Regions from separate parts of the Homo sapiens genome. Here regions 1, 2 and 3 are each linked to region 4. Evidence: fine-mapped expression QTL. A gene starts in region 4. Each other region holds a variant in brackets. All regions are shown on one strand. Distances are from middle to middle.

Evidence for each region. PIP is the estimated chance that this variant, and not a neighbour inherited with it, causes the effect.
Region 1: its variant is fine-mapped to the expression of LAMA5 in sigmoid colon (GTEx, PIP 0.97).
Region 2: its variant is fine-mapped to the expression of LAMA5 in sigmoid colon (GTEx, PIP above 0.99). The same link has a PIP of 0.9 or more in skeletal muscle and visceral fat.
Region 3: its variant is fine-mapped to the expression of LAMA5 in monocytes after LPS (Quach 2016, PIP 0.95).

The regions. Positions count from the first base shown.
Region 1 is chr20:61,534,424-61,540,002 of GRCh38, reverse strand. All of the region lies in intron 2 of CDH4 (cadherin 4), which reads right to left. Among named protein-coding and RNA genes, the nearest start is that of CDH4-AS2, 180 kb to the left of the region's middle. RefSeq lists an enhancer at 636-1,615. The variant C/T (reference allele first, on the strand shown) is at 2,142.
Region 2 is chr20:62,328,832-62,333,831 of GRCh38, reverse strand. It overlaps LAMA5 (laminin subunit alpha 5), which reads left to right. Exons shown (of 80, transcript NM_005560.6): 24 at 126-268; 25 at 351-457; 26 at 589-742; 27 at 1,115-1,275; 28 at 1,352-1,460; 29 at 2,703-2,800; 30 at 2,888-3,089; 31 at 3,218-3,344; 32 at 3,916-4,055; 33 at 4,579-4,694; 34 at 4,777-4,988. MIR4758 (microRNA 4758) reads left to right here and starts at 1,275; the gene lies at 1,275-1,345. The variant C/A (reference allele first, on the strand shown) is at 2,066.
Region 3 is chr20:62,741,551-62,747,129 of GRCh38, reverse strand. All of the region lies in intron 1 of NTSR1 (neurotensin receptor 1), which reads right to left. Among named protein-coding and RNA genes, the nearest start is that of NTSR1-AS1, 9.0 kb to the right of the region's middle. The variant T/C (reference allele first, on the strand shown) is at 2,334.
Region 4 is chr20:62,365,208-62,370,756 of GRCh38, reverse strand. It overlaps LAMA5 (laminin subunit alpha 5), which reads left to right and starts at 3,445. Exons shown (of 80, transcript NM_005560.6): 1 at 3,445-3,808. The coding sequence starts at 3,512. RefSeq lists enhancers at 1,143-1,842, 3,941-4,640, 5,339-5,549 and a silencer at 3,322-3,761.

The DNA.
Region 1 (5,579 bases), 830 kb after region 4:
ACGCTGCGGGCATCGGGGAGGAGAACGGTGGGAAGCTGGGAGGGAATTGGACAGGGAATGTGGTGAGCACACAGAGTCCACACAGTTCTCCAAACACTCTCTTTCAAATCCTGTGTGCACAGAGATCCACTCGGCAAGACCCTCTGGAGAGGCATAGTCATGTGCTCAGCTCCGGCCAAGGGAATATGCGCAGAAGCCATGGAGGTCAAGAGCTGGCGTGTCCCTGCTCTGCTCCCTCTCGTCCTGTGACAGCAGGGCTTGGGGGGGACACCACCAGGAGCCCCAAGCCAATGCTTGGCGGACCACTGCCCAGGGCAGACTGTGCTCTGTGGCTGCCTTGCTGAACAGCTTGAGCTCAACTTCAACTCGGATTCCTAGGCTGAGTCCTAATCCCGTCAGAACATGGCTGTATTTGGAGCTGGGCCTTTAAAACGGGGTTAAGGCAAAATCAGGCCATTAGGGTGGGGCCTAATCCAACCTGGCTGGCGTCCTTATAAGAGGAGGAGGTGAGGACACAGACACACACACAGGGACGACTCCGTGAGGACACAGGGAGAAGATGGCATCTACAAGCCAAGGAGAGAGGTCTCAGAAGAAGCCAGCTCTTCCCACACCTTAGTCTTGGGTTTCGAGCTCCTGAATTGTAAGAAAATAAATCTCTGTTGTTTAAGCCCCCAAGGAGTGGTGCTTGGTTGGTCCCAACTGACTAATACACCTACACTGTGGACACGGCCCATGCAAGAAGTAAGCTGGGGCTGGGTGAGACCCAGAGGCTTCAAAGCAAGGTGAGGAGAAGATGCTGAGAACAGGAGGCCAGAGGCAGCTGTGCACTCCTGGGGACTCCTCCAGGGCCGTGGGTGCACCGGCCACGGTGGGCAGCAGCAGAGCGTGTGGAGTATCTCAAGTTCCCTTCCCCCTCCACCTGACCCGCTGCGGATCTGCTGTGGATCCCAAACCCTGGGATCCTCCTTTAGTCCTCCTCCCCTGCCTCCAGCGGCAGAGACCGAAGCAGGTTTCTTGATGGCCACAACCCAGGCCCAAGCCACCTCCTGTACCTGGCATCAGGCAGGAAGCCACGGTGCCCTGGGGCAACCTCCCCACCCCCTGCACAAACATCAGAGCCTCCTAAGAGCCTGACCCCATTAGCATTTCCGCCCAGCCCCATGCCTGGCCTGCAGCAGGGAGCCAGCAAGTATGTGCTGATTAGACGAGAAGTGGCATATCTGGATGGGGGTGGCCCCCAAATCACGATGTGACCCAGGCCTGGGGACAGTCGCACCCAGTGGGAATAGTGGGAGCAAGTGTCCCATCCACCCTCCTGGGGACAGGGAGGACTGGGAGCTGTGCCCAGCCACATGGCCTCCCATGAACGCACGAGGGGCAGGAGGTACCAGATCCTGGGAAGGAGTCCTCACTGCATCCACCCAGGAGGCACCAGCAGGGACAGGCGGATGTTAAAGTGTTGGCTCCAGGAAGGCCAGGCGAAAGTACACAGAGTAGGAGGAGAGAGGAGGGAAGGATGAGGTCAGGAGTGGGGGCCTGGGTTTCCGGCTCTGGGTTGGGGCATGGATATTAGTTCTGTCCTTTGTGTATCAGAGCAGAACAAATCTGTCTGTGAGTAAACCTCTTGACTTGATGCGATTCCTCTCCTACCAATCTCTGGTGCACCAGCCCCTGGGGAGGGGAGATGGCAGGTGTCCTTCTCCCAGAGTGACGGGCACAGCTGGAGGGATAAAGGACACTGCTGGATCAGCCCTAGAAAACGCTGCTCAAACCAGAAGAGGTTCAAAGGAAAGCCCATGGAAAACGGGTGCCCACCACATATCTCAGACAAATGGGTGTGTGGGCTTTCCTGGAAAATACAGCTTTGGGTGGACTTGAACTTGGCCTCTCGGACAGCTCCTGTGTGAATGCACCTCCTCACAGGCCGGGGGCCTGGCTTTGTACATAATTAAGCAGCCTAGGGGTTTGGAGGGGCTCACTATTGCTCAAACAAGTGGGAGAACTTGGTCTTCATAGCAATGTGGCCGGGTTGGCCTGACCCCACCATGACCCGGTGGTAGTTCCCAGGGATGCAGACACTGCGGAGAGGAACTGGAGACAGCAGGCCACGCAGCCGACTCGCTCGGCCCCTTTCATGG[C/T]GCTGTGATGTTTCTGTCACTCAAGGGGACCATTCTCTCCTAGTCTAACTCCAGAGCCCCTTGGCTTCCAACTCAATGAGGCTTTTCAAGCTCTCCTTTGAAAGACCCGGCTTGTTAACTCCCAACAAGGCATCTGCCTTTTGAGTCTGCACAGAAAGGGAGGAGAATGGCTTAAAAAACACCCCTCACAACGCCTCGTGAGTGGGGAGGGCAGTGCGTGCCTGTCCGCGAAGCCCGCTTCTGCTTCTAAATCACTCCTGGCTCCTTGAGTTCTAGACCGGGGTAGGGCGATTTCCTTCCAGGTTTGTGTCTTCTTTTTATGTTTACCGTGGAGAAAGTGGTAGGCAGAGAGCTCTTGATGAGGGCACCTGGCTGTGAGGTTGCGGTCCCCAGCTCCCTGCCCTCCCGAGCTGGCCTGGGCCTCCCTGATGACCTGGGACACATCACCGGCCACGTGCTCAGTCAGTCAGCCTCTCCCTCTCTTCTCAGGGCAGGGATACCTGGTTAGTGCTGTGTGATGCTTCTCTACACAATGGCTACTGAGGAGAGAAAAATTGCAAGCAATGAAGGATAAGTAAAATGTCGGATTTCAAATATTAGACCTCTAAGGGGCCCTAAGAAAAATTATTTTAACAATTCCACTGACACATTGTACCATGTGACAAAGGCAGCAGCAGATAGCTCAGGGGGAAAGAAAGTGAACAGTCAAAAGCAATGATGTAGACCTCAGCCTTTAAACAGGTGAAATGGCATGACGCCTGGCATCCCCAGTGAACGCCTGTCTACCAGCCCTGCAGGGAGGGGACACTGAGTCTCCAAGTGGTTTCTGGGGGTGCTCAGAGCATCATTTGTCCACTTGGTCATTCGTTCATTCACACCCATCCGTCTTGAGCCAGACACTCCCAGGCACTGGAGCATAGGGTGTACCTGCAGCTAGGGCCTTCCTGGGACCCACCGGCCTCTTCTCTGGAGGGGAGGGCCAGCCCCTGCGCTGAACACACTGGGCCTGGCCAGCTCTCTGCTGTGCCCTCCTTCCTTCCTCTCGTCACTGTGGGGTGTGTAGCGGCATCCCCAAACTATACCCACCAGATGCCAGGGCACTGCTCCCAGACGGGGCAACCGAAGCTGTCTCTAGACATGTATGTGTATATGTATGTATGTAGGCCTAGACGTATGTATGCACATAAAATAATGCTGCGGTCAGACACGCTAATTAAAGTTATTCTTTTATTTCGTGAGACAATGCATCATAGAGTCCTGTTTTTCCTCTACCGTATTAGTGTGGCCTCGCAATGGGGGTGCCTGGGGAGCATCGGAAGGGGTGAGGGGCCTGGCTTGAGTTTCGTGGGTTATCAATGCCCACGAGCCTTTTCTCCCTCCCCCTCCCTCCCTGCCCCACTCCCTCCCCTTCCTCTTTCCCTCCTTAGTAATCATGAACATTATCATTTGTCTCATGATGGAACTTTCCATGGGTTGTTCTGTTTGGGTGCGGCCTCTTCCTTTCCACCACCACCCAGTGGATCCATCTTCCCAGTTAAGCCATGTCTGTGCCCTCAGCCCTGTTGGCAGAGCCTCCCAAGTGCTTAGGGACTTCTGGGTTCGGGGGGCAGGAGGGGAGCCACGGCTTTGGATCTGAGATGTGTTTGTTGCACCCGTGGAACACACGAGGGAGGCAGTGAGGCTTCTCCGAGCAGAGCCCTTCCCTGCGGCTGGTTTGGGCCTGGCTGGCCTGGCCGGGTTCTGTGCCTGCAGGTAGCCTGGGCCACTCACTGGGCCATTCCCATGGTCTTCCAGGCTCTGGTGGGGCTCCGGGGGCACTCCTAATGCCATAAGAAGTGCAGAGTGGAAGCAGGCAGTGTGGGGTCTGCTGGGTTGAAATACTGAGGGAGGTAAGCACCCCAATCTTTCAGGATGTGGCTAGATTCCCAGCTAGGCACAACATTGCTTGCCACCTTGAAACCCAAAGGGCGTCTAACCTAGAGGAGCACAGTGCAAAGGGGCAGGAGCGGGAACAGGGGGTTCGAATGCCCAAAGGACCGGCACTGAAGGGCCCCCACACTCTCCCCATGGCGGCTCAGGGGCGAGTACAGGGGATTCAAACGCCCAAAGGACCGGCACTGAAGGGCCCCCATACCCTCCCCATGGAGGCTCAGGGGTATGCAGCCCGGGCCCCCTCTCAGAAGGGCCCCGCACCAGGTGAATGCTCTGCTGCTGCCCTCGGGAAGTCCCAATGCTTTTTGAAGAAGGCCCCCGCGTTTTCATCCTGCACCAGGCCCCACAAATTATGTCACTGCTTCTGACTTTCCCATATGTAATTTATTTCTAAAAACATTCTACTTAAAAGGCTTTCTGGGAAAACTACAAATTGATTTTTTCCCCAAGCTTGACATTACAACCATTATTTCCTCTCTGTCAGCAACTGCCTCGACAAATGGACCTGGGTTTTCCAAGAGCCAGGCCCTTCCTTGTTCCGTGGGCCTGGGGATGGGATCCGTGCCCACGAGGCTGAGCCTGAGGGCCGCCCCGGGGCTGTCCCCTTGGCCAGGGCACCTCTGCACCTGACTCAGCCTGCCCCACTGTAGGGCTGCTGGGAACCAGTCGAGACTACTGGATCTGCCACTGAAGTTACAGGTCATCAGGTCGCACTTCTGAGCCTCAGCTTCCTCGCCTGTGAAATAGGAATCAGTCATGGCAATGCCCAGCCCAGTCACAGGTTTCAGTAGATCAACTATGGTGAGGGCTCAACCAGCGCCACCCATCCATGCCCCTTGGAGGGAATGGTTGGTTTTAAGGACAGAACCTCCACATGAGTCTGCAAAGGTTTGTATTAACCAGGAGGAGGGAATTCATCTATTTGATTGTCCCTTTAAGTGAGCAGGGCTGGCTTCTGAATGGATCCAGGATGAGCAGGCATCTCTGCCACTGTCCCACCAGAGGCTGCTCCAAAGGAGCGTCCCAGCAAGGGAGGCCATCGGGTTGAGGATGAGCAGGCATCTCTGCCACTGTCCCACCAGAGGCTGCTCCAAAGGAGCGTCCCAGCAAGGGAGGCCGTCGGGTTGAGGATGAACAGGCATCTCTGCCACTGTCCCACCAGAGGCTGCTCCAAAGGAGCGTCCCAGCAAGGGAGGCCGTCGGGTTGACCACACAGCTGGCACAAGTTTAGGAAAACACCTCAAAAAAAAAAAAAAAAAAAAAAGAAAGAAAGAAAGAAAAGAAAGAAAGAAAAGAAAAAACCACCACTTAGAATCTGATCCCTGCAGAAGGAGAGGACAGCAACACCGCAAGGCCTCAGCCTCCGGCCCGGTCCCGTGCCCTCCCACATCAGGTGCCTGCAGACAGCTGGCTGGGAGCTCTTCCAGGCTCTCAGCCTCCGATCACGGCGGTGAGCCTGTGATTTGCTATTTTACCACCTTTAAAAAAGTGTATTAAATATGGAAT
Region 2 (5,000 bases), 37 kb after region 4:
AGCCCCGCCACCTTCCTCTGGCTCATGTGGGTGGTAGGACCAGCCTATCCCCAACCCTGTAGGGGGTGCAGCCTGGGGTGGCCCCAAGGGCTGGGCTCAGGAGTCTCACCCCTGCCCCCGCCCAGGCACAGCACAGAGTCAGCCCGTGGCCTTCCCACCCAGCACGGAGCCTGCCTTCATCACCGTGCCCCAGAGGGGCTTCGGAGAGCCCTTTGTGCTGAACCCTGGCACCTGGGCCCTGCGTGTGGAGGCCGAAGGGGTGCTCCTGGTGAGGCAGGGGCCAGAGTGAGGGCTGGGGGCCGGGTCAGGGGGTGGGGCCCACCACTCTCAGCACCACCTCCACCCTGCAGGACTACGTGGTTCTGCTGCCTAGCGCATACTACGAGGCGGCGCTCCTGCAGCTGCGGGTGACTGAGGCCTGCACATACCGTCCCTCTGCCCAGCAGTCTGGCGACAAGTGAGGGCCATGCGTGCGGTGGGACCGGGGTGGGGGCTTCCTGGACCCCCACTGTGCCTGGCTTCCCCCACTCAGGCTGTCTCTGGGGACCTGGGTGGACCTGGGGCTGACCACGGCCTGTGTCCCCCCAGCTGCCTCCTCTACACACACCTCCCCCTGGATGGCTTCCCCTCGGCCGCCGGGCTGGAGGCCCTGTGTCGCCAGGACAACAGCCTGCCCCGGCCCTGCCCCACGGAGCAGCTCAGCCCGTCGCACCCGCCACTGATCACCTGCACGGGCAGTGATGTGCGTGTCCTGGGACCCCACGGAGCAATGGGTGTTGCAGGACCTTGGCCTGGGGGCTGGGGGTCCTGTGGCGGTGGCAGGTTATAGGAGCAGGGCGCTGCCTCAGGCAATGGAGCCCAGCACCCAGGCAGGGCGCCCCTGCCTCCTGCCTCCTGCCTCCTGCATGTGTGACCTCAGTGCCTGTCTGTATGTAGGATTGGCTGTGGCCTCCACATACAGCTCAGCCCCCACCACTTGCCTGGAGATGTCCGGGCCAGGGTGGGACTCGGCTGAAGGGCAGGCCCTGGGGTCAGGGAGGCGCTGGAGTGGGAGGGGAGGGAGGTGGGAAGGGCGAGGGGTGGCGGGCCTCCCGTCACCCTGCCTTCCCTGCAGGTGGACGTCCAGCTTCAAGTGGCAGTGCCACAGCCAGGCCGCTATGCCCTAGTGGTGGAGTACGCCAATGAGGATGCCCGCCAGGAGGTGGGCGTGGCCGTGCACACCCCACAGCGGGCCCCCCAGCAGGGGCTGCTCTCCCTGCACCCCTGCCTGTACAGGTGAGTGGGAGCCGGTGGGGCTGGAGTAAGGGCACGCCCGGGGCTGCCCCACCTGCTGACCACCCTCCCCCCACAGCACCCTGTGCCGGGGCACTGCCCGGGATACCCAGGACCACCTGGCTGTCTTCCACCTGGACTCGGAGGCCAGCGTGAGGCTCACAGCCGAACAGGCACGCTTCTTCCTGGTAAGGACCCCTCAGGTCCCCACCCCAAGGGGTCAGCTTCTTTCAGAAGATTTGAAACATGCATGAGAGGGGAGAGGACAGTTGGGGTCCCAGGTCCCCAAGGCGGCCACACTCGCTCATGCCCAGCCCAGCATGTTTCTTCTGGAACCCCTCCTGCAAGCGTTTTGTGGATTCAGTCCCTTTTGACGTACCCCCGAGCTGTTCCATGTGCTCAGGAAAGCACCTGCAGTCACAGCTCCCTGGCCCCAGGGCAGCCACCTCCTGGCACAGACAGCGTTGGTTGCCTGTTCTGGAACTTTCTTTTCTTTTTTTTTTTTTTTGAAATGGAGTCTCACTCTGTCGCCCAGGCTGGAGCGCAATGGCAAGATCTTGGCTCACTGCAACCTCCACCTCCTGGGTTCAAGCGATTCTCGTGCCTCAGTCTCCCAAGTACCTGAGACTATAGGCACTCACCACCACGCCTGGCTAATTTTCGTATTTTTAGGAGAGACAGGGTTTCACCATATTGGCCAGGCTATTCTCAAACTCCTGACCTCAGGTGATCCGCCCTCTTGGGCCTCCCAAAATGCTGGGATTACAGACAGGAGCCACCATACCTGGCCTGG[C/A]ACTTTCTATAAATGCCACACAACATGTTCTGTGCAGCCGCGTCTCCCACCGTTGTGTCAGCGGATAAGTTGCCGTGTTCCGAGACACCAACCTCACATGGCCGCACGGAAAGGGAGCACCCATTTGCGGCTTGTGCCTGCTGAGTGCCTGCCTGGGTCAGGTCCTGGGAGAGCTGGGCCTGGCCCGGCCTGGTGGCACCAAGCAGCACTCGAGATAAGAGTGGGGGAACAGTGACGGATGGGAGGGCGAGGGGGAGGAAGAGGGCTATGGGAGGAGCCGCATAGGCCTGTGGGCCCAGGAACTGGCCAACACGCTGGTCTGCGGTTGGGGTTTGTGCAGCTGGAGGAGGAGCAAGGGCATCTTGGAAAGAGCAGGGCTCGGTCGGACGCCTGGGTTTGCAGTTTCCTGGGTCTGAGCTGTGTGACCGGCCCCCCCATCGTACCGCCTGCACCCCCCATCGTACCGCCTACACCCCCCCATCGTACCGCCTGCACCCCCCCCATCGTACCGCCTGCACTCCCCATCGTACCGCCTGCACCCCCCCATCGTACCGCCTGCACCCCCCCATCGTACCGCCTGCACCCCCTATCCTCCCCGCACCACGGGCGTTGCAGCATCTCGTCCCTCTGCCTGCAGCACGGGGTCACTCTGGTGCCCATTGAGGAGTTCAGCCCGGAGTTCGTGGAGCCCCGGGTCAGCTGCATCAGCAGCCACGGCGCCTTTGGCCCCAACAGGTAATGGCAGGTAATGGGGCTGGGAGGGGCGCGGCCGAGGGCCCGGCGGCAGGGCCGGCTCTGACTCACCCACTGTGCTCTCACCAGTGCCGCCTGTCTGCCCTCGCGCTTCCCAAAGCCGCCCCAGCCCATCATCCTCAGGGACTGCCAGGTGATCCCGCTGCCGCCCGGCCTCCCGCTGACCCACGCGCAGGATCTCACTCCAGCCATGTCCCCAGCTGGACCCCGACCTCGGCCCCCCACCGCTGTGGACCCTGATGCAGAGCCCACCCTGCTGCGTGAGCCCCAGGTGAGGGCCATAGTCTCTAGAGGGACGGGGGTGTCAGGGCAGGACTCCGGGTCCCAACCCAGGGCAGGTTGTCCAGGGGGCAGCAGGGGCTCATAGCTCAGCCTGCTCACTAGGGCCTATCCCTGCAGGCCACCGTGGTCTTCACCACCCATGTGCCCACGCTGGGCCGCTATGCCTTCCTGCTGCACGGCTACCAGCCAGCCCACCCCACCTTCCCCGTGGAAGTCCTCATCAACGCCGGCCGCGTGTGGCAGGGTGAGTGTCTGGTGTGGGGGGTGGAGAGGCTACCACACACGATGAGGCTGGAATGCCGGCGCCACAGCGTGGCCTGTGCTACCTGCTATGAGCGACAGGCAACATGACTCTGTCCTGCCATCAGTTCTCAAACTAGCTGCCCTTGCAGCCCGCAGCCCCTACCCGCCCGCTCCCGTTCCCAGAAAAGCCTGGGTCTCGCCTCTGTCTCGTGCGTTGGGAAGCCCCGTTGTGCTCCATGGCACGTGGCGAATTGAGGGCTTGCCCCAGGATGCCGCTGGCAGCACATGTGGCCCTGTGTGTTTGTCTGGTTCCTGGCTCGGCCAAGCCTGGGGTCCCGCACATGGAGTTGACCGGTACCTAGAGGTGTCCCGCATGACATCTGTAGGTCATGATGCGGCCAACCCCCGTGACATGAGGGGCCGGCCTTGCAGACCTCTTGGGCACGTCCCGTGCCTGTGGCCGTTGGCCAGCGGGCACTCCTTGGCTGCCCCAACGCTGCCATCTTCAACCCTCTGGGTGTCTTGGGGGCGCTAGAGATGGGGGCCTGACCCTGCCTTTCTCCCCCGCCCAGGCCACGCCAACGCCAGCTTCTGTCCACATGGCTACGGCTGCCGCACCCTGGTGGTGTGTGAGGGCCAGGCCCTGCTGGACGTGACCCACAGCGAGCTCACTGTGACCGTGCGTGTGCCCAAGGGCCGGTGGCTCTGGCTGGTGAGTCCCAGCTGATGTCCTGCTCAGGGACCAGCTGTCCTTATACTTGTCATTACCACTGTGGTACACTTGGGCTGGGTCTGTCTCTTCTGGGCCTGCTGAGGCCTGGCCTTGTGCCCAGCAAAGCAGCTCCTGCCTTTGGGGACCTCCCGATCCACCTTGTGAGGCTCCAGAGGGGCCCTGGACCCTGCACCCTGCACCCTGCTGGTCAGGGTGGCCTTCCTGGAGGAGGTGGGGCCTCCAGGAAGGAGAGGGAAGAGGAAGGCGTGGCCAGCAGACAGAGATGTGGGAGACACCAGGAGGTCTCATGAATGCTGCTGCCTCCTCATGCCCCCGAAAGCTGCTGTTTGGCTTGGAGTGGCCTCCCCTGAGCAGCCAGGGCCCAGGGCTGGGCTGGGCTGGGCTGGGCTGCTGCTGCCAGGACTCTGAGCTGCCTGCAGGACCCTGGTCCCAGCCAGCCTCTGGGGGCCTCCCCGCTGCAGGCTCTGGGCCCGCGGGAGAGTGACCAGGCCTCACCCCCTAGGATTATGTACTCGTGGTCCCTGAGAACGTCTACAGCTTTGGCTACCTCCGGGAGGAGCCCCTGGATAAATCCTATGACTTCATCAGCCACTGCGCAGCCCAGGGCTACCACATCAGGTGGGCAGGGCTCTGGCAGGTCAGGGGTCCGGGGTGGGGGTCTGGGCCGGGAGCTGGCCTCACCACGTGCCCCTCCATGTAGCCCCAGCAGCTCATCCCTGTTCTGCCGAAACGCTGCTGCTTCCCTCTCCCTCTTCTATAACAACGGAGCCCGTCCATGTGGCTGCCACGAAGTAGGTGCTACAGGCCCCACGTGTGAGCCCTTCGGGGGCCAGTGTCCCTGCCATGCCCATGTCATTGGCCGTGACTGCTCCCGCTGTGCCACCGGATACTGGGGCTTCCCCAACTGCAGGCGTGAGTACCCCA
Region 3 (5,579 bases), 380 kb before region 4:
TCCTTCTGTTCATGTGGTGGATCACATTTACTGATTCATATGTGCTGAACTGTGTTTCCATCCCAGGGATAAATCCCACCTGCTCATGGTGGATGAGCCTTTCAACATGCTGTTGAATGAAGTTTGCCAGTATTTTGTTGAAGATTTTTGCCTCTTGGTTCTTTTCTCATAGCGTCCTTCTCTGGCTTTGGTATCAGGGTAATGCTGACCTTGTAAGATGAGTTAGAAAGTGTTCCTTCCTCTTCACATTTTCGGAATTGTATAAGGACTGGTGTTAATTCTTCTTTAAATGTTTGTAGCATCCATCGGCGAAGCAACCTGGCCCTGCCCTGGGGTTTTCTTTTTTGGGAGGTTTTTGGTAACTGATTCAATCTCCTTCTTTGTTATTGGTCCTTTCAGATTTTCCATTTCTCGCGATTGACTCTAGGAAGCTTGTGAGTTTCTAGGAATGTATCCATTTTTTCCAGGCTGTCCAGCTGGTTTGTATAAAATTGTTCACAGTTTATTATGATCCTTTTGATTTCTGTGGCATCTTGTAAAGTCTCCTCTTTCATATCTGATTTTAGCTATGTCTTCTCTCTTTTTTCTTGGTTAGTCTAGCTTCCCTCCACCTTTCTCCCTTCCTCCCTCCCACAAACATCACTGCCTTGGAGAAGCCATAGGAGCCCCTGCCGTCAGAGGTCTTGGATCCTGGGGAGGAGAGACCACTGAAAGAACCACCTGCAGTGACTTCAGGGCCAATAAGAGCTACAGACACAGCGATGCTGGCGGCAGCCTGGCTGCAGTAGTGCTGGGGGTTCCGGGAAGGCCTCTGCTTGGAGGTGACTTCTCATCTCTGACCTGATGGCACCCACAAGCCTACAGGGACCCTAAGCTCTCCTGGCAGACGGTCCAGCAAACTCACAGACCTGAGAACTCAGGGGGTGAGAACTGAACAGGAAGCAGACGGCCAGGCTGGGGTAGTGTGGGGGCCTGGTGGTGACCCGCCGGGCGGCAGCCTTGACCTTCCCCCTGGCTGACCCCTTCTCTGACCTCTGCTAGTGTGGCCCCCGTCCCTGCCCAGGCTGAGCGTCTACCTCTCTAGGCGTCTCAGCCCTGGCCACATAGGGTGGCCTTGAGGGACTTTGTCCAATGGACTCAAGCAGCTTGAAGGCCATGCAGGGCCGGCCAGAGGATGCCTCAGCGCCACTGATGCCACAGCACCCTGGCGCCTTTCGATTTGTCTCTAAAGAGAGCAGGGAGTCACCTGGCCCAGCCCCATGAATATTCTGGGGGACGCGTGGTGGCTGGGACTCCCAGACCGCCTGGCTTTGCAATTCCAAGCAGCAGGGGAGGGTCATGGCCAACAGCAGGGAAGCCCTGGGGACGGCGAGGCTGTTCAGCAGCTGTAGAGAAGGCCATCCAGTCCCAGCGAGGTCCACGCCAAGCTGGATTTGGAGGCGAGGCAGAATATGTGTCTCTGTCTGTCTTTGTATCTTTCTCCTGTGATGTCTCTGTGTTTTTCTCTGTGTTTTTCTGTGTCTCTGTCTCCTTGTATGTTTTCCTTCCTGTGTCTGTCTCTGTTGTGTCTCTCTCTGTATATCTGTGTGTTTTCCTCTGTGTCTCTGTCTTTCACTGTTTTCCTGTGTCTGTCTCTGTCTGTGTGTCTCTGTTGTTCCTGTGTCTCTATCTCTGTATCTCTGTGTCTCTGTTCTCCTGTGTCTCTCTCTGTCTGTTTTCCTGAGTCTGTGTCTCTATCTCTATATCTCTGTGTCTCTGTCTCTATCTCTGTCTCTGTTTTCTTGTGTCTCTGTATCTCTGTCTCTGTGTCTCCCTGTGTCTGTTTTCCTCTATGTGTCTGTTTCTCTGTCTCTGTGTCTCTCTCCATGTCTCTCTGTGTCTCTGCTTTCCTCTCTGTGTCTCTCTCTCTGTCTTTGTGTTGCTGTCTGTCTGGGTCTCCCTCTGAGTCTGGTGTGTGTACCAACATCCTCAGGTGGCAGGAACTGGCTGGGCCACCCTCCCTGGAGCCGGCTGGGTAGCTGGGCTCTGGGCCATGGGCCTCAGTGGCTGGGTCTGAGGTTTTAGGGGTGGATGTTCCAGAGCAGAAGGTCATGGTGGGAGACAGGGGTGTCTGCTGTGACAGCCGTGGTGGTCTGGAGGTGGGGCTGCCTCCATGGGAATCTCATTCGTGCTTCTGGCAGTATCCTCTGCTGTGTGCACCCCTCAGCTGCTACCCCTTGCCTCCTAGCCCTGTCTGGGTCTGGGAATGGCGTTTGAGTGGTTGGTAGGGCCTCAAGCCTCTCAGAAGCAGCCGAATGCCTGGGGTTTGGTGCCAGAAGTGGGGGCCTGGCTTG[T/C]TCCCTGGCCAGCTGTGAGCTCGGCAGGTCCTCCTGGGCCTCAGGCTCATTTCTCTCTTTTTTTTTTGTGAGACTGAGCTTTGCTCTTGTTGCCCAGGCTGGAGTGCAGTGGCGCGATTTCTGCTTATCACAACCTCCGTCTCCCAGGTTCAAGTGATTCTCCTGCCTCAGCCTTCCTGAGTAGCTGGGATTACAGGCATGTGCCACCATGCCTGGCTAATTTTGTATTTTTTTTTTTTTTTGAGACGGAGTCTTGTTCTGTCACCCAGGCTGGAGTGCAGTGGTGTGATCTCAGCTCATTGCAAGCTCCACCTCCCGGGTTCACGCCATTCTCCTGCCTCAGTCTCCCCAGTAGCTGGGACTACAGGTGCACGCCGCCATGCCTGGCTAATTTTTTTGTATTTTTAGTAGAGACAGGGTTTCACCATGTTAGCCAGGATGGTCTCGATCTCCTGACCTCATGACCCGCCCACCTCGGCCTCCCAAAGTGCTGGGATTACAAACACGAGCCACTGCGTCCAGCCCCTCAGCCTCATTTCTAAAAGAGCGAGCCTAGAGGTGCTGCCTCAGTTCCTGGAGCACTGACTGTGCTCCCTTGGGTGTGGGAAAGGAAGCAAATTGGGGGGCACAGGACTGCGGCTTGGGAGGCTGGGATGGGACACGCTGGGGCGACGGCTGGTGGGGCTGGACCTATGGGAGGGACAGCCTGGCCTCTGCCCCCTCGCATGTGTAATTTTGATGGGGAGGACGGAGGTGGAGTGAAAGGTTAGATAATGAAACAGCAGGTGTGTTAGGGGGATCTGGACCGGGGCGCAGCCTCTGGGTGGTTGGTCTGAGCTTGGCCGTGGAGACCAGGTGGGGAGCGGGAGGGGTGCACACGGTATGCCTGCCCACAGGTGAGGGCACAGCCAGACAGCAGGAGGGTGCCCCCGACACAGGCTCCAGACAGCCGGCCTCAGCCCCTCGACCTCAGGCAGGGCGTTCTCACCTCGCTCTTCGAGAGCAATTGCTTGTTTTGTATTCTGCCTTTCTCTCTAATTCATCCCATTGTGTTTAGATCAAGAGACAGCCCCAGACTGGCACACTGCTTCCCGGCTCCGCAGCCAGCCTGTGCTGAGTGGGAAGGTGCAAAACCCTTTTGCTTTGCAGAACCCAGAGGCTTTGTAAGATGGCTGCAGAGGCTGCGGGGCGGGTGGGAGGGGAGGCTCCTGTCCACACCCTCCCAAGGGGGTGACCGCTGGGGTGGCCTTGCTGGGCTGGCAGGGGATCGCCCTCTCCCTGAGCAGATGACCAGCCCCAGCAGGGCCCAGGCTCACGGACGGTCTTTTCTAACCTCCCAGACAGACTCCAGGTGGAGAGGCCCCCACTAGACCCAGCAAACACTGACTTGGGAGCAACCCTCAGGGTTCTCATGACCCCGAACTGCCTTCCCCACCACAGCTGAGGCCAGGAACGATGGCAGAGTTAATTCAGAAACCCTGTGTGCCAGGGCCGTCAGCACAGGCTTGTTCGAAACCCCAATGATTGGTGAACAACTCAAAGGCTCACCCTTTGGGGCTGGTCGCCATGGCATGACGCACCCACACCACGGGGCACTCAGCTGACTGGACCGGGGGCAGGGAGCAATGAGGCAATGGGTGGGCCTGAGATGGCCGGGATACGTGTCCAGCAGGGGCGGCTCCGTGCTCCCCTCCCAGCCTGACTCTCTGGATTGGAGCCTACCGAGCTGATCTGGGGAGAGGGCAGGGTAGCTGGGAGGGTCTCAGGTGTGTCCCCCAAAAGCTAGACTCCCACAGTGAACTACCTACACAAACAAAGCTAAACTCAGAGAACGTTCCACTTGCCTGTGCTGTGGGTATGTCCCGTGACAGGTGCCCTGGGATGAACAGGAACCCCACGGCCACACCAGAGCCACTGTGACCACCTCACAGCCCTGGAACTGGGGAAACACTGCGGGGAGAGGGATGGGAACCCTGGTGGGTCTCTGCTCCCCATGCCAGAGGTGGGGTGCCAGGGCCAAGAGAGCAAAGGGGTCTTTAAGGTGACACAGCCCAGCGCTTTCCAGGAGTGAGGTCATCCAGGAGGCTCTGACCAGTGGCTGTCCTCAGAGGAGACACCATGGAGGGACCCAGGGAAAAGCAGCGGCCACCCACAGGACACCTGAGACCTAGGGCCCTGTGTAAACAGGTGTCTGGGGAGCAGAGGACGGAAGGCATAAAGAACTGCCAGTGTGACCTTGTTCTAGAAGGTTCTGGTAGTGGCCAGCTTGGGATACTGTGCTGTCCCTCAGTCCCCAGTCTCTTTCCTCGGTCCTCCCTCCCAGGCATCTAAGCAGTACCAGGCCCGGCTCGAGATGCTGCTGGGATCTGGAATGCAAAGCTGTGGGACTTGCTGCCCAGTGGGGACACGCCTGACTCATGGTGGATGGGGGCCTGGAAAGCCGTACATTGCCGCGTGGTCAGCAGTGACCACAGACCTGGCCTGAGGAGGAGCCCACACACCACCTCCTGGAACGCCAGCATTTCTGAGTCCCTGAGGGCAGGACTGGAGAGAGAACAGGCGTGTGACCTGGAGGGGCCATGTCAGCCACCTCGGTGTCTGTGGGACCACTGTGGGGAGGGGATGAAATGGACGGCGCAGCTTCTGGCTAGTACTTGGCCCCTCACGACCCCGTCCACGCCTCCATCAGAGAGCTCTGATGTGCAGGTTTTGGCTCAGTATTAAAAATAACGGTTTGAATTCCTCTAACCTTCACTTTCTAGCTGACATCGACTGTCCTGGGGTCTACACATACTCTGTGTGCACCACCTCAGGCACACAGGTCTCATCTGTGAGGCAGAGGCTCCTGTCAGGCTCCTTTTGTAGATAAAGAAACCCAGGCACAGTTGTGAACCCAGGGGCCTGATCCCACAGCCTGAGCTCCCACTTCCTCCATCAGGGGCCATCCTATGAGCAGATCCTCATCCCCACTGGTGAAGCTTTGTGGCATGTACCTCACCTGAGCAGATGCCTTCTGTGGGCCATTGCCAGGTTTTGAGAGCATCTAGTCCAAGGCTGTGGCTCCTTGGCGACCTCTCAGGGACTGAGCCTGCCCCACAGCCTCTGTCCATGGCTCCTCCACTCTGTTCCCTGCACTTTTCTTCTGGTTTGGAATTTCTGGGAAAGGCTCAAGAGAATGCCAGAGCCCCAGGGAGCCTCAGGGGTTCAGTACCATGGACAATGCCCAGGCATGCTCGAAGGGGCGCA
Region 4 (5,549 bases):
GGCCAAGAGGCCCAGAAGCTCTCCCAGTCCGCTGGGTTTATGCAATCCTGATGAGACCTTGTCTTCCCGGCACCTGCTGTTCTGTGTCCTCCTCCCAGAGGACTGAGCTGGCCCACGCGAACAGTTCAGAACCAGCCTTGCTGCCCGCTCCCAGCTTCTCTATTTCATGGACAGGGATGGAGGTTCTTACCAGCCGGCTCCACGGAAGGGCATCCCAGCAGCCCTGAGAAAGGGACTGTGGCCTCCGATATCCCAAACCACAGCGCTGGCGTTCCTCCAGACCTCATCCCGCTGAGACAACATTCCCAGTTCTGGAGTGGGAGCCACAAGGCCTCACCCGCAGGCCCGGCCCTAGCAGGAGCCCAGCCTCCAGCCCTCCTTCTTGCTCAGCCCCCGCTTCCTCTTGGGGGCTTCTCCCGAGGGTACAGCACCCACTTGGACCCTGGGCTCTGGGACAGGAGGGTCTGCAGAGTCATCTGTTACTGATTGTGGCTGCCTGTGATGCAGCTGAGTGTGGGCGTGGGGGTGCCCCATGTCCTCAGCACAGCGGTGTCCCCAGGAGGCTCCCAAGGTCAGGAGTTCACGACTCACGGCTGAGTCAGATGTGCCTGTGGCCTACCCTCAGGGTCCCCCACAGCTGCCTGCAGGTGTGGCCGAGTAGGGTGGGGGCATTCTCAGGAATGCCACTGGAGTAGCACTGGGGGCTCAGGTGAGGTGGCTGCCCCCAGGGCTCCGCAGCAGACCTTGTCCCAGGGCTGGGGGAGGATCTGAGACCCCTTCCCCAGGGCCAGGAGTGCCCCTACTTCTCTCGGGCTGCCACTGACCCCTGCCCCCGACCCACCTCCTCTGGGGCTCCATCACCCTGGAGCTGGGTGGGCAGGGGCTCTGGATCTTGGATTGTCCCTGGAGGGCAGCCAGAGCCTGGTGGGACAGAGGCTCCTCCACGGCCCTCCCCTGGCGAGCCACCTCCTTTTACCCTCCCCTCCACTCCCAGACTGGGCAGCTCCCTCCTGTGGATTCAGGACAGGACGTGTTTGGGGGTGGGGTGCCGTCTGACCTGTTGCAGGGAGGAGGACTACGTCACGGGCGGGTGCCCGAAAGATGCCCAGTAAATAGGAGTAAGAAATGAATGATGGACAAACTTCCTCTTGCTTTACTAACTTGTGTGCTCTTGATTGACCCTGGCCTTTTTGGCCTCAGTTTCCCCATTTGTAAATAGAAGAGGTGGCTGGGCTGCGCAGGACTCAGAAAGACAAGGAGACAGGCTCGCTGGTCCATTTGGTGATGACTCACTGGAACCATGACAAAGACAGCAGGGGTGGGGGTGTGCAGAGATGAGCTGCCCCTCTCCCTGCTCACCTCCCCAACCCCCTGTGTGTAGCCCGGCTGGGACAGCCCCCCCGCCCTCCATACGCTCAGCTCCTGCCCCAGCTGCCTCCTTCCCAGTCCGTGCACCAGCAGACACAGGGTGGGGGCAGAGTGTGGGCTCTTTACCCAGCCCCTGGGCCACATTCTCTTGTCCACTGCGCTGCCCGCCTGCCTGCCAGTTGCTCCCGGGGCAGCTGTCTGCCGGGAAGCAGTGAGCCCGGTGATTAACCCTGCTGGTGCTGGCAGCTCCGGCTGACACAGCGCATTCTCAGGGCCGGCCCCCGCTCCCCTCCTGGCCAGTGCCGGGGGACAGCGGAGGCCTGGCAGCTTGGCCTGATCTGGCCGCTAGGAGGCTTAAAGTGCTCTCCCCACCCCCACCTCTCCCCCTGCCCCGCCACTCGCAATCCCACCCCTCCAACCACCCGACCCTCCAGGGATCCCAAGAAGCCCTCAGGGTCTCAGGAGTCTCCACCTCCAGTCCCCCAGGCTGTCAGAGCCCCAAGCTGTCAAGGGGGAGCCCAGAGCCAGAGCACACTGCCTGGGGCCAAGCCCCCACCTGGGGACCCGCTACTGCCCAGAGGCCACTCTCTGCCTCACACGGGATCTAAAGCAGCTCAGAGCCGGACTCTGCGCCTGGACTGCAGATTCCTTGATGTCTCCGCCCCCTCTCCAGCCAGCCCCTCCCCCACTTGGAGCTTCTCCTGCCAAGGGGAGCCGCCTCCTCTCCCCCCTCCCCCAGGTGGGAGAACTAATAGTGAAGTTATGGAAGAATTGCCGGGCCGGAAAGTAGGAGGAGGGAGAGAGGGTCCCATCGCCCTCCCGACTCCGTAGAGAAAGGGCCATACACCCTCTTGGGATTTGAGATTTGCAGGAGGCCAGGGCGCCAGGAAGGTGTGCAAGGAGGTGCACCCTCCAGGGACAGCTGCTAGCTCAGAACCCCCACCAGAACCGGCTGGCCAGTGCCCCACAAACCCACCCAGCCCCCCGGGACTGTCCAGGGAACCCAGCGAGAGATGAGCCCCACAGCCCATCTGGGACCATGGCCCGCCCAGCTGGCCTGGCTCAGGGATGGGGGTTTGCTGCCAGCTCGGCAGCTGCAGCCCCACCCCGCCGCCACCCCCTCGGGGCTTCCCTGGAGGCAGATTTGGCCCCGGAGCCCAAGGGAAGTAGGAGACCCAGGGCCGCAGCCACCCAAAGGCAGACGAAGACCTGATCTCGGCCTCTAGGTCCTGTGCTGTTTGCCAGGCGTCCTCGAGCCGCCGATCGTGGCAGGAACGCGTGCGCGGCTGTGCAGCGGGTTGGAGGCCAGGCCGAGAGAGCTGGTGGAGTCCACCGGGCCCCGGAGCACAGGTGCTTCCAGGCACCCAGCAGGTGCTCAGCAGCTGTGACCAGAGCCCCCGACCTCCTTAAGAGCCAATTTGGCGGCTGTGGGGCCATGAGCACCGCCCCCGTCCTCTAAAGGGGGCTGCAGCTGCAGGCCAGTCCCTCCTGCCCCTATTTCCCTATCTGAGAGTATTTTTAAGCCCTGCTGGGGCAGGCGGGAGCCAGGCCGAGTTGAACCTGACCTGGCTGCCCCAGGAAGCAGGGGGTTCCCACCTAGGCTGCCCCGTTCCTCTGCAGATGGTCATTCGCGGGTGCAGAGGGCACCTTCCCGCAGCCAGCAGGACGGACGCTGTTGGGGGAGGAGCGGGGGCAGCCGAGTGGTGCACCCAAGTTAGGGGAACAAAGAGTGGGCCCCTGGGCTGGGAGGAGCTGGTGGGCGCTCTGGGGGCCAGGGCGTCGTGGGGAGCGCTAGGGTCCCACCCGGGACCCGGAGCTACGACCTGGGCTGGGGGCCCGGCGGCGCCGTCGTCCCACGGCCTGGCCCGAGGCCAGCAGGTGCCCCTTCCGGGAGGCGGCCGGGCCGGGGTCCGAAGGGTTAAGGCCGCCCGGCCGCCCCTCCCCCTCCTCTCTCCTTCCCCCCCCCACCCCGCCTCCCCGGACCTCTCCCCGGGGCTCGGGGCTCGGGCGCTCGGGCGGGCCGGGGCGGGGCCTGACGTCCGCGGGCGGAGCGAGCCCTGCCGGCCGCCTGGCTTCAGACCCGCCGGGCTCCCGCCGCGCGCGCTGTCCCTGGAGCTCGGGGACGCGGCCCGGAGCCGGGAAGATGGCGAAGCGGCTCTGCGCGGGGAGCGCACTGTGTGTTCGCGGCCCCCGGGGCCCCGCGCCGCTGCTGCTGGTCGGGCTGGCGCTGCTGGGCGCGGCGCGGGCGCGGGAGGAGGCGGGCGGCGGCTTCAGCCTGCACCCGCCCTACTTCAACCTGGCCGAGGGCGCCCGCATCGCCGCCTCCGCGACCTGCGGAGAGGAGGCCCCGGCGCGCGGCTCCCCGCGCCCCACCGAGGACCTTTACTGCAAGCTGGTAGGGGGCCCCGTGGCCGGCGGCGACCCCAACCAGACCATCCGGGTGAGCGCAGGGGCGGGCCGTGGGGCTTCCTCCCGGGGCACTCGGACCCGGAACACCGGCCCGACCCCAGGGGGAGCGCCGTGGCCCGGGGCGAGTCCAGGTGCGGACTCTCTGGTTCCGCATTTTGGGGGCCCAAGAAGGCACCCCGACCCGGCCGCTCCGTCTCGGCCGGGAAACTTCGCGTCCCTCCGGGAAGGCGGAATTAAAGTCCCCGGCATGGACCCGGGGGCGGCTGGGCGCCGGTCCAGTTCGACTGCGGTGACCGGGGCGGGAGGGGGGCCGGGCCCAGTCCCTGGCGGCCCCAAGTCCGGGATCCCGGGGAGGGCGGGACTTGGCCTCCGCCGCCTGCTGCCGGTGGGGAGGGGGCGCAGCTCCGCCCTACCCGGGACAGGCTGGAACCTGTTGGCCTCTGGATGGGGTGGGAGGGGCCAGCCACCTGAGGCTCCCACTAGCCCCTCTCGGAGGAGTCTAGGGACTCGAGGAGACCTCCAAAGTAGGGGAGGGCCAGCTGCGAAGTTTTGACTGGGGCTGGGAACACGTGGCTCCCAGGAGGGGCAGCATCTCTGCCCAGCAGGTGGTAGGGTCCGGGGGCTTCAGTCTCCCTGGGAGATGTGGGTTCAGGCCCTGAAGACCCCCTGGGGTGCATGTCCCCTCCCCAACAAGCCTTAAACCTGTAGGCGGGTTCTGTTGGTGGACTCCATGCATGGACACCTCACCTGAAAACCAAGGCTCTTGGGGCCCTGTAGACTTAGGTTGGGCCTGGGGTCAGCCTTGGGTGAGGAGCAGCAAAGTCAGCTCCAACGGCTCCCAACCGGCCGCTCTAGGCCCATTCCCCACCTCAGCCCCACCTTAGGGAGAGTCTAGGGGCCCTGAGGGCCTGTGTAACCTGAGCTGTCTCCTCCCTGGTACCTCTGCCTTCCCGGAAGGAGAGGCTGGGGCAGGGGCGAGTAGCTGGAGATTTGCTGGGTGGGGGCAGAGGGCCCTGGAGCAAGACGTTATGGGGATGAATGGAGGAGCCTGGGCTGGGCCCGCCCCCTCTGCCTGCCCCACCCCCTTGGCCCTGGTGGAGGGGGAAGGAGCCTCCCCAGGCTTCTGGGCTCACCGTTCTCTCCTTAAGCCCAGCACAGTCCTCTGAGATAGGAGGTCTCAAGCCCACACTTCAGATGGGGGATCTGAGCCCTGGAAAGCTGCTGACACCTGCTTGGAGCCCCCCAGCCAGAACAGGGTCCAGCGGGGGTTAGCTGTGGGAACCTGGGTGCCTCCTGGCTGCCCCCTTATCTGGTCAACTCAGAGGGGCCGGGTCTCAGGACGGAGGGCCTGTGACTGTCTCCTTACCTGCTGCCACACCTCACCACAGAGGGCCTGGCTGAGTGTCCCCAGCTGAGATTTTGCCGTTCTGGCAGGGGAGGCTCCAGGTGCCCTGTGAACCTCAGACCACCCCCCCACAGCCTGCCCATGCTGCGTGGCTGGGGGCCACAGGCCCCCTCTCAGATCTGTCTCCTCTGTGGGGGCTTATTACCCCCGTCTCGTGAGTAAAGGGCCAGCCTGTAGTCAACGCCCCTCTCCTCTGCCTCAGCTGTGTGGCTTCCCTCTGTCAGCCTCAAGCTGTCTTTAAAATGGGCACAGCGTGCTGGCCCCCCTCACCTGAGACTGTGAGCTTGGCCCGAGGAGCCTGGGAAGTGGCCACAGTTTCAGTGGCAGCTGTGGGCTGTGGTGCTCCATGCCTCAGAGCCAGCTTGGA